Linked DNA regions of Homo sapiens: region 1 is linked to region 2. Evidence: fine-mapped expression QTL. A gene starts in region 2. The other region holds a variant in brackets. All regions are shown on one strand. Distances are between the middles of the regions.

What was found. PIP is the estimated chance that this variant, and not a neighbour inherited with it, causes the effect.
Region 1: its variant is fine-mapped to the expression of TEP1 in whole blood (TOPMed, PIP 0.97).

Annotation. Positions count from the first base shown.
Region 1 is chr14:20,486,082-20,491,460 of GRCh38, reverse strand. No RefSeq gene overlaps it. Among named protein-coding and RNA genes, the nearest start is that of RNASE10, 17 kb to the left of the region's middle. The variant A/G (reference allele first, on the strand shown) is at 3,176.
Region 2 is chr14:20,411,066-20,416,444 of GRCh38, reverse strand. TEP1 (telomerase associated protein 1) reads left to right here and starts at 2,944. Exons shown (of 55, transcript NM_007110.5): 1 at 2,944-3,040. It also overlaps the pseudogene RNA5SP382. RefSeq lists enhancers at 2,741-2,790, 3,291-3,360, 3,911-4,080, 3,190-4,106.

The sequences.
Region 1 (5,379 bases), 75 kb before region 2:
ACTTTTTTTTTTTTTTTTGAGACAGAGTCTCACTCTGTTGCCAGGATGGAGGGCAGTGGCGCGATCTCGGCTCACTGCAACCTCTGCCTCTTGGGTTCAAGCCATTCTTCCATTCTTCTGCCTCAACCTCCTTAGTAGCTGGGACTACAGGCATGTGCCACCATGCCCTGCTAATTTTTTTGTATTTTAGTGGAGACAGGGTTTCGCCATGTCAGCCAGGATGGTCTCGATCTCCTGACCTCATGATCCCCCCGCCTTGGCCGCCCAAAGCGCTGGGATTACAGACGTGAGCCACCATGCCTGGCCAGCACTATTTTGAGTTCACAGACTAAGTTCACTTGGGATGGCAGATACTGGCTGATATGGTTTGGTCGTGGTAGTGAATAAGTCTCACGAGATCTGATGGTTTTATCAGGGGTTTCCACTTTTGCATCTTCCTCATTCCCTCTTGCCTCCTCCAAGTAAGAAGTGCCTTTCACCCTCTGCCATGATTGTGAGACCTCCCCAGCCATGTGGAACTGTAAGTCAAATTAAACCACCTTTTCTTCCCAGTCTCTGATATGTCTTTATCAGCAACATGAAAACGGACTAATACACTGGCACAGAAGTTAGCACAGAAGAGTTGTCCGTTAAGGTTTGGTGAAAGAGACAGGAAAGGAGAGGAAAGGGAAGGAAGGAAATAGGGAAGAAGGGAGGGAGGGAGCCCTGAGCAATGCGTGGAGGTCAGCAGTTAAGATTAGCTCAGCAGGAAGGAAGCGTCCTGGGCTTCCGTGAGAGGTGACCTCTGACAGGCTTCCAGGTTCCTGTGCTCTTTGAGAGAGTCTTTCTTATCCCCTCACCCAGTATACAGGTACTTTGGCCTGGCCTGGCTGGCCAGATATGCAGTCGAGGTTTTACCTTCAAAGATGACAGCTAGAGAAATAAGAAAAGGGAAAGCATTCAGAATCCATTATAAGACGTACTGATAAGTAACACACATGCAGATCTTATGAATTAATGTGGATCTTCATAGGTAAGATCTTCATAATGGCAATGCTATTATGTAAGAGAATGTCCTTATTCTTAGAGATGCGTGCCAATATATTCAAAAATGGACTGATAGGCAAATTGTCTGCAGCAATTTACTTTCAAATGGCTCAGGAGAAAACAAATGTATGTAGCAGATTATTGACTATTGATGGTTTAGGTGAGAGGTACACTAGTGTTCATTACATGATCCTTTCTACTTTTCCGTAAACTTAACGATATTCCAAGTAAAAAGTTCAGGACAAATGGGCATTAGAAATTTTCTCTAAAATGTATAAAATCCATAGTAAGCACACCTAGCTGGTAACAGCGCTTGCTTATCTTGGCTGAGAGGATAAGGGGTTCTTCCTTGCTTTTTGGTGTGTGTGTGTGTGTGTGTGTGTATGTGTGTGTTTAAGGCCACAGCTAGGACCCTTCTTTCTGCCCCTCTGGCCTCTTTCACTGCACCAAACCACCTGCTCCTGGGCCCCAGCAAAGCAATCCCCCTATGAACAACATTTCTCAACAAGTGTTTCTGTGCCTGTTAGTAGCCCCACACGCTTCTTCCCCACAAACCCTTTCCTCATACACCATTGCCCACACAAAACACACCCCTTTCAAACTGCTGTTCTGGAACAAATGGCTTTCTTCTCTACTGAGTGCACCTCTGCCCAAGGCTTCCACCCACAAACGATTCTTTCTCTAAAGTTCCTGTGTAACCCTACCCCACCCATCCTCTCTGAATCATTGCCTCAATCCCCTGAGGTCTATCTTGCTGCAAATTGAATTCCTGCTGGTGTTGAGCCTGAAAATTTCTCAGTTTGCTAAGCTAAAGAGTTGCCCTTCCGTGATGGATGAAGCAGTGAATTGCTTCCACTTTTGTCTAGGATCGGGCACAGACCTTACTCTTTCTGCCCTAGCACCCCAGCTCCTCAGGTCCCACTTCAGTGGCATCAAGCAGAAGTGGACATGCATGGATAGATATATAATTATTGAAACATGAAAGCACAGTGTAACATCCCACCCTCCTTCTGTAGAACTAGAGTGTTGTGGAACTATAGTTGTTGCTATTCAGGTTTTTGCAGATAAAATATCTTGAAAAGAATTTTAGAGGTCATAAGGTCAACTATTTCTCTCTACAGCTTTGTCAAATATTCCTCTAGCCCCTATTTCAACATTTCAGGAATGTAACGTAACAATGTCTTTTTTGTAGAGCTCTTTTTCTAATATTGAGTGGGCTCTCCTGTCCTAGTCAACTCTCCAAAGTTGCACAGAGTAAATTTGATTCTTCTATATAAATAAGTTTAAAAATAATATAAGGCCAGGTACGTTGGCTCATGCCTGTAATCCCAATACTTTAGGAGGCCGAGGTGCTAGGATCACTTGAGGCCAGGAATTCGAGACCAGCCTGGGCAACATAGCAAGACTTTGTTTCTACAAAAAAAATTTTTTTTAATCAGCTGGGTGTGGTGATATGTGCCTGTAGTCCCAGCTACTCAGGAGTTTGAGGCAAGAGGATTGCTTGAGCCTTGGAGTTCAAGGATGCAGAGAGCTATGATCATACTAGTGCATTCCACAGAGCCTGGGTAACAGATCAAGATTCTATCTCTTAAAAAAATCATAATAATAATATTAATAGAAGACAGTTCTTCACTACCTCCTTTCATCTTCTGTTTACCACCAAACTTAACTACTCTCTGGCTTTTCATTCAACCTAAACGTGATGCCTTTTTACACATTCTCCATCCCCATCTCTTTATGTAGATCTAATGCTATGGTGACAAAAGTTCTGAGCCTGAAGGAATAGCTTAGCTATTCCTTTGCTGTGTGGTATTGGAAAAGTCAGATAACCTTTCTCTAAGCCTTTTTAAATCAGAAAAATGAAAATGAGAAAAATATCAATGATACTTGCTCAAGGGTCTCAGTAATTATCACAACTAAAAAGGACCAAAAAATGTAAAATATTTTGTAAACTATAAAGCACTATGTACATATTACCTGCTGTGAATATTCACATTAAAGGTCCAATCTCAGCATGAGTGTCTCCCTTCCTCCCAGCATAAATTAAGTCCTTCTATACTAGGTTTTTTTGGTAAAATTTAGCCACACACATTGGAATTCAGCATCAATGGCTTTTATGGAATGATAGTAAATTGCAGTGATTACTTTG[A/G]AAAAATAGTCTGTTCATAATGACAATGGTCCAGACTAATTTGTTTTATTGTTATTGTTTTGTCTTGTTTTTTAGAGAGGGATAGGGTCTCGCTTTATCACCCAAGCTGGAGAGCAGTGGCATGATCATTGCTCACTGTAACCTGGAGTTCCTGGGCTCAAGTGATCCTCCTGCCTCAGACTCCCAAGTAGCTGAGACTACAGGTGTGTGCCATCACAATCAGCTTGTAAATTTTTTTTTTTTTTTTTTTTTTTTTTTAGAAACAGGGTCTTGCTATGTTGCTCAGGTCGGTCTCAAACTCCTGGCCTCAAGTGATCCTCCCACCTCAGCCTCCCAAAGTGCTGGGATTACAGGCGTGAGCCACTGTGCCCGGCCCCCACCTGGCCTAGTTTGTTGTTTGTTTGTTTTTAATGCTTCGATATAACAGCTACATCTTCCTTCTGTACTAGCCATTCTTTTACACTCAATCAGCTTTACAGTTGCTCCCTCCCCTGCAGGGCTCATAGTCTGCCATGTTACCAGTTGTATTCCCAAGTCTGGAGCCTTTGGGGTCTCTAAGCAAGAATCTAGCACTGAGGCTCTGGGGAGGAAGGGCTGAACTTTCTTTAATATCTTTAAAGAGTTTGCTAAAAAGTCTTTACCCTGCAGGGATCACCTTGCAGAGTTTTTCTTTGTTGTTGTTATTATTGTTGTTGTTGTTTTTAATTTCCTAGCTCTGCTCTGCTGCCCTCTTATGGGCAGCTATCAAGTCAAAACCAAGCTTCTATCTTAGACCAATTTGCTTCCACTGGCAAGGCTCCCTATCACACAACACAGGTGTAACTGTACTATAAGCAAGCCATAGGGTATTATATCAATAATCAATAAAGGTGCCATTTAACTCTCAGACTATGGTACAGGCCATCTTCTCTTCTTCAGATCACACCCAAGTCCCAGTTGGCTTCTTTCCAGTTCAAAATGCCTCCCATCATTTAAAAAAAAAGGAAAAAACCTTCTCCTGAACCCACATCCTTTCCCCCAGCTACCACTTCCCTTTATAGCAAAATTTCATGGTTTGCACTTGCTGCCTCTATTTCCTCACCTCTCATTCTTTCTGGTGTCCGCTCTAATAAAGATATCATCTTTGTTACCCCGCTGAGACTGCTCGTCAAGGTGAGCAGTGACCTCGATCAGTCTCTTGTGTTAAAACGCTTTCTTCACTTGCCCTCCAAGGCATCCTACTTCTTGGTTTTCCTTCTACCTCATTAATGTCTCCTCAAACACATTTGCTAGATCCTTCTCCTTCTCCTGACTTCTGTCCCCAAGTGATATCGTCCAGATAATTTGGTTTAAACACCACCTATGTGCTAATGACTTCCAAATGTATTTATCTAGCTTAAACCTCTTCCCTTGGACTCCAAACTCATATACCCAACTGTGTAATCCACATGTCCATCTGGAGGTCTAGCTTTTCAAACGTGACAGCCTTAAAAGAAACTTTTGATTACCATGCCAAAACTGCTCCTCTGTTAGCGGTGTCTTGGTAGATGGCAACTCCATTCACCCAGCAGGTCAAGCTGAAAACTTAGGAACCTTTCTAAATTCCTATTTTTTACTCATATTTTATTTTCTATATATCTATAGAAATAAGGTAAGTCTTATTCTATATATATAGATATATAGAAATATATATTTTTTATATATAGATATATAGAAATATATATATAGATATATAGAAATATATATTTTTTTCTATATGTAGATATATAGAAATATATATATTTCTATATATATATCTCTCTCTATATATATATATTTCCTTATATCTATGTAAATATAGGTAAGTCCTATCTGCTCTACCTTCAAATATCTCCAGAATCCAACCTCTTCTTACTGAAGCAGCATCATTCATCTAAGGTAATACCTGAGGTTTGCTGCCTCATGCCAAGGAAATCAAGGATGTGGACACACAAGAAGTAAGGTTAAAAGCGGAGGTTTAATAGGCGAAAGAAAGAGAAGAGCTCTCTGTGCAGAGAGGGGTCCTGGGGAAAATGGATTGCCACTTCCACAGTGAAATGCAGGAAGTTTTATAGATAAGCTTGAGGAGGCGGTGTCTGATTTACACAGGGCTCGAAAGATTGGTTGGACCAGGTATGCCATTTGCATAGCACTCAAAGAAGCTGGCTGCCCCACCCTAATCTTTTATTATGCGGATGGGTTTTTTA
Region 2 (5,379 bases):
GATCTCCAGGTAGTTCCAGTGTACAAGCCTTGCTGGCCTTGAATCTCTTTGCTGCTTCAGGAAACCAGAAAGTAAAACTAGATCCTCAAAGCCAATCAGGAAGCCATCACCAATTGCCTTCCCTCCTGTATTGCCAGTCTTCTCAGGTCTGATATTTATGGGAATATGATGGAAGGGCTTGCATATGCTGTTCTTTCACTGGTGGGGCAGGTGTTTCCCACAGAGAGTCACAGACTACGAGGTCTTGAGGTTGGGATTATTATCTAAGGCATATTCTATGGGGAAGAGGCCTTATAAAGCTGGCCTTCAGAAGAAAGGCCCTGTGTGGACTCCTTCAATCCCTCCCCTCACTTCCTTCTCCTCAATATGCTCCCACTGTAGTCACCTCACGTAACCCTTTCTTTCAGGTTTCCTAGCTCTTGTGTTCCCTCACCAAACTCCTCTCTTTCTCCTCTAAACAGACCACTAATGAAGGTTTTCGATGTGAGTGGTACTGCCCTCTAGGGGGTGTTTTTGGCTTTCACAATAATTAGGATGATTTTACACATTTAAATGGGTAGGGCCCAGGATAGCTCAACATTCAGGAACTGTTTAGGACACTACCACACAATGAGTGACATTTCCGCATCTTTAACTTTGAATAACTTGCCAGTCATTCATGTAGCTGAAAACTTGTTTTAATTAGGATCTAACTTAATTTTTTTATTTTTTTTTTGAGTCGGAGTTTTGCTCTTGTCACCCAGGCTGGAGTGCAGTGGTGTGGTCTCGGCTCCCTGCAACCTCCACCTCCTGGGTTCAAGCCATTCTCCTGCCTCAGTCTCCCAAGTAGCTGGGATTACAGGCGGCCACCACCATGCCCGGCTAATTTTTGTATTTTTGGTGGAGACAAGGTTTCACCATGTTGGCCAGGCTGGTCTCAAACTCCTGACCTCAGGTAATCTGCCCACCTTGGCCTCCCAAAGTGCTGGGATTACAGGCGTGAGCCACCGTGCCTGACCATAATTTAATTTTAAATATAAACACAAGGCATTTTATGCGTAGTTTTAATACACACTGAACTTTCCAGGGATGCAACTACCATGAAAATCATGGGATGATCATACCTTGTTTTGTTTGAAAATCTGCCAAAAGCTATTTAGTATTCTGGAAAATCATACCACATCAGTAATTCTGTTCATGGTATTTGAATCGCCATTATAATGCCTGTATCATTCTGCATTTGTAGCTGTTACATTCCAGGTGATTTTATATACAGATGCATATATCTGAGTACCACATTGTGTCTTCTTGAATGTTATACACAAACATTTACATATCTAAACATATAGTATTTAATTATAAGTCATATTCTTTCTAGTATTCCTTTTATCTCCCATCCAAGTACTAACCAAGCCCAACCCTGCTCAGCTTCCAAGATCAGAGGAGATCGGGCGCGTTCGGGGTGGTATGGCCGTAGACTCCTTTATATCTCTTTAAGAGATTTTACTAATTTTTTGGCCAGGCATGGTGGCTTATGCCTGTAATCCAAGCACTTTGGGAGGCCAAGGTAGGAGGACTATTTGAGCCCTGGAGGTAGAGAGCCTGGGCAACATAGCAAAACCCTGTCTCTACTTTTTGTCTTTAAATTTTGGTTTAAAATTGTGCGTGGGGGTAAGTTACATTCTTTACGAATTATGTTTCAGAAAAATAAAAAGAGCTTTAAAATATTTGTTATAAAAAGGAAATGTTTTAGTTCAGGTTGCTATAACAAATTACCGTAGACCGGGTGGCTTAAACAACAAATATTATTTCTCACAGTTCTAGAGAATGGAAGTCCAAGATCAGATTGCCAGCATGGTCTGCCTCTGAAGATGAGGGTCTTCCTTGGGATTGCAGATGGCTGTTTTCTTGTATCCTCATATCGTGGAAAAAGAGCTAGCTAGCTCTTCCGTCTCTCCTTATGAGGCCACCAATCCCATTTATGAGTATTCTAAACTCCATGACCTAATGACCTCCCAGAGATCCCACCCTAAATACCATCGCATTGGGATTAGGGTTTCAATATATAAATTTTGGGGAGACACAAACATAAAGACCATTGCAGGGAGTGTTGGGACTGGTGGCAATAGAGGTTTCTAAGGAAGGAAAGGGGTACTGGCTCAGTTAATAGAGGACAGAATGCCCTCAATTCTGAGCGGAAGCTCAGCTGTTACCTGAGACTCAAGGGTACCTCTCTAAGGAAAGCAATGATATTTTCCAGAAGACAGCTAATCTGCTTTATATAAAGGCAGAAAGCATATTTCTCCTGCTACTATGTTTGGTCCTCTCTTTATGAAGCTAGGATTATTAACCTAAGGGTCACTTGTCTCTTTCCTAAGCCTGGTTCCATCTTCCTGGAAAGGGTTCAGCATTAATCATTCAGGATGGCTCCAGATAGATTCTGTGTGATCCACGGATCTCTCTTCTGATCAACAGGAGGGGAGGCACTTGCTCTCAGTTCAGCGAACTTTGATTGACTGATGTCTACACTTGGTTACAGGCGGTTGCTTTCCGCTTTCCGTCTCCTTTTAAGGAGTTCCTCAAAGGAACTTTAGGATGAATTGAGTCTGACCGTCTTTGATATTAGGAAGGAGAGGTGTACAGCTAGGCAGCGAGCATGCTAAAATCTTTTCCAGGAAACGGTGTTTGAAGAGTTAATGGGAGAAAAAAAGACGAAAATTAGCCAGAGGAGACGAATTTGGTAGAGGGGGAAGCCCTAGGGACAGGAGAAAATAGGACCAGAAAGGGAAAAAAAATAGAAACAATAACAAACTAAACTCGGGCCCCAGAAAAGGCGGCAGGGGTCCTGGGCATTCGCGTCGCAGCCCTGGCATGTCGTCTTGCCCGGCCCTCGGCTCGCTGCCCTTCCAGCAGCTGCTGCGCCCCGCCCGGGCCCGAGAGTCTCCGCCCGCACCGTCTCTTCTCAGATCCGCATCCGGCTCCTCCCCCGGCTGCCACCCTTCCCACCGGCAGAATCCAGAGCGAAGTTTCTGCTTCCTGCTGCGGGAATCGGACGCCCCAGGTCAGGCACCCAGGGTTTCCAGCCCCAGTCTAAGGTAGGGTCCGAGCGCAGGCAGAACTTGCCCTGGCCCTGGGTCTAGGGCGCTGGGCTCTGAGGCTGAGAGCTGGGTGGGAAGTGCCTGGCGGGGCCGGTTAGGAACCACCCGAGACTCAGCTAGGGGTGCATCCACCCTGCTCCTCCCGGCGGCTCCGGGAAGGGGAGGGAGTGTATACTGCGTGAAAGGGGAGGTGAGAAAGGAGGAGGAGAAGGCTGAAGGAGAGGGAGGGACAGGAAGAGAGACCACGTAAGAATCATCCCCTCTTACTTCCTTGCCCTGTGTGCCCATCGAAAGGGGACAGTGGCTGTCACCAACAAATGGTAGTATGAGAACCGTTTGTGATAATAGAAACCCAGACTGTGCTTAAATGTGCTAGACTACCATACAGCCACTTGAAGAGTGAGGTGGAGGCCGGGCGCGGTGGTTCACGCCTGTAATCCCAGCACTTTGGGAGGCGGAGGTTGGGGATCACCTGAGGTCAGGAGTTTGAGACCAGCCTGACCAACATGGTGAAAACCCTCTCTACTGAAAATACAAAAAAATTAGCCGGGCATGGTGGTGGGCGCCTGTAATCCCAGTTACTCGGAAGGCTAAGGCAGGAGAATCGCTTGAACTCGGCAGGCAGAGATTGCAGTGAGCTGAACAACAGAGCCAGACTCCGCCTCAAAAAAAAAAAAAAAAAAAAAAGGAAAGAGTGAGGTGGGTATTAATGTGTTAACAGGGCAAGGTCTCTGAGATATACTAAGTGCAGAATAGCATCTAACTTATGATCCTGTTTGTGTAAAGCAAAAGCAAAAGCAGTGGTGATGGTGAAGGCATGTATTTGCATATGCATAGAAACTGTGAAACTGTTAGTATAAAACTGTGAGCAATGTTTACTTCCAGAGAAGGGAACTAGAGATGGAAGTGGGGACGGAACTTTAACTTTCCATTTGTGGTTCAGCCGAATCTCCTTTCAAAAACTCCAGGGTGCAAAACAATAAAATGAGCAAAATAGTGAGACTGTCCTTTTAAGGATAGGACAGTCTCACTATGTTGCTCAAATAAACTGTCCTTATTTTTCTGTTTATTTTTGGCTTGAGATCTCTTTTAAAAAAAATCTGAGTCAATTCTGAGTTTCCCCACTCCTTTCCTTGGGGGCTTATATAGGGCAACGACATGAGCAAAGTGTATTGGGCACAGAAGCCATCATTTTTTACGTGTTTGTCACACTGACGTCCAGTGAGATATTGTTGTCCTTTTTGGCCCTGGATTGTTAGTCATTCAGGTCTTCTTGGAAGTGTTCTGTACTTTTGTCCCTAAGCTTTTTCACACTAAGTTTAGGTGGTTGACTTAACAATATTATTCCCAAAATATTTACATATGAATGAGAGATTAGCCTTTGTCCAAATAAGTAAGAAAATACATTCCTTTTTTTTTTTAAATAGAGGTCTCACTATGTTGCCCAGGCTGGTCTTGAACTCCTGACCTCAAGTGATTCTCCCACCTCAGCCTCCCAAAATGCTAGGATTACAGGTGTGAGCCACCACACCCAGCCAGAAAATAGGTTCCTGATGGTATAATTCAAGCATTCTGTTAGGCAGAGGTTTCTAATTTTCAGTTTATGGAGATCCTGGGAGGTCCATAAATGGGCTTCATAGACACTCTGAAAATTGAGCACAAAACAGTATATACTTTTTTTTTTTCTGTGAAAAAGCTCCATAGCTTTTACCAGATTCTCAAAAGCCTCTGAATCCCGCTGACCAGCAATTGTGGGAACAAGGCTAAAAGGGTCTCTCTCCTCAGGAACTTAATGGTCTATTGGGAAGAAAGACAAACAGGTGATGTGCTCTATGATAGGGGACATATGGGTGTTGTGAAAACAAGGAGAAGGCCACCTAAATCAGACTGGGGCTTGGTGTCAGCACAGGCTTTTTGGAGGAGTTGATGAAACTGAAGTCTGTAGAGTGAGAGGAAAGTAGCATTTGGCCTTGTAAAGGAGGGGTGGTATTGGTAGAAGAAAGAGTGTTCCAGGGATCTGCCTGTGCACAGGCCCGTAGTCAAGAGATACCTTGGCAATTAATAAGCTAAATAAAATTTGTATGATTGAAGCTTAGAGTGCTGAGGGTTAGATCGGGGTGTTAGTGAGAGATGATGCTGGGAGGTGACCGGAAGTCGGGTTTTGTGTATGATGCTGAAGATGCAGAGGGGAGCAAGACAAAGGAGCCCTTACCTTAAGGAGTTGTATTTCAGTAAAGAGAAACAATTAGGCTGGGTGCGGTGGCTCACGCCTGTAATCCTAGCACTTTGGGAGGCTGAGGTG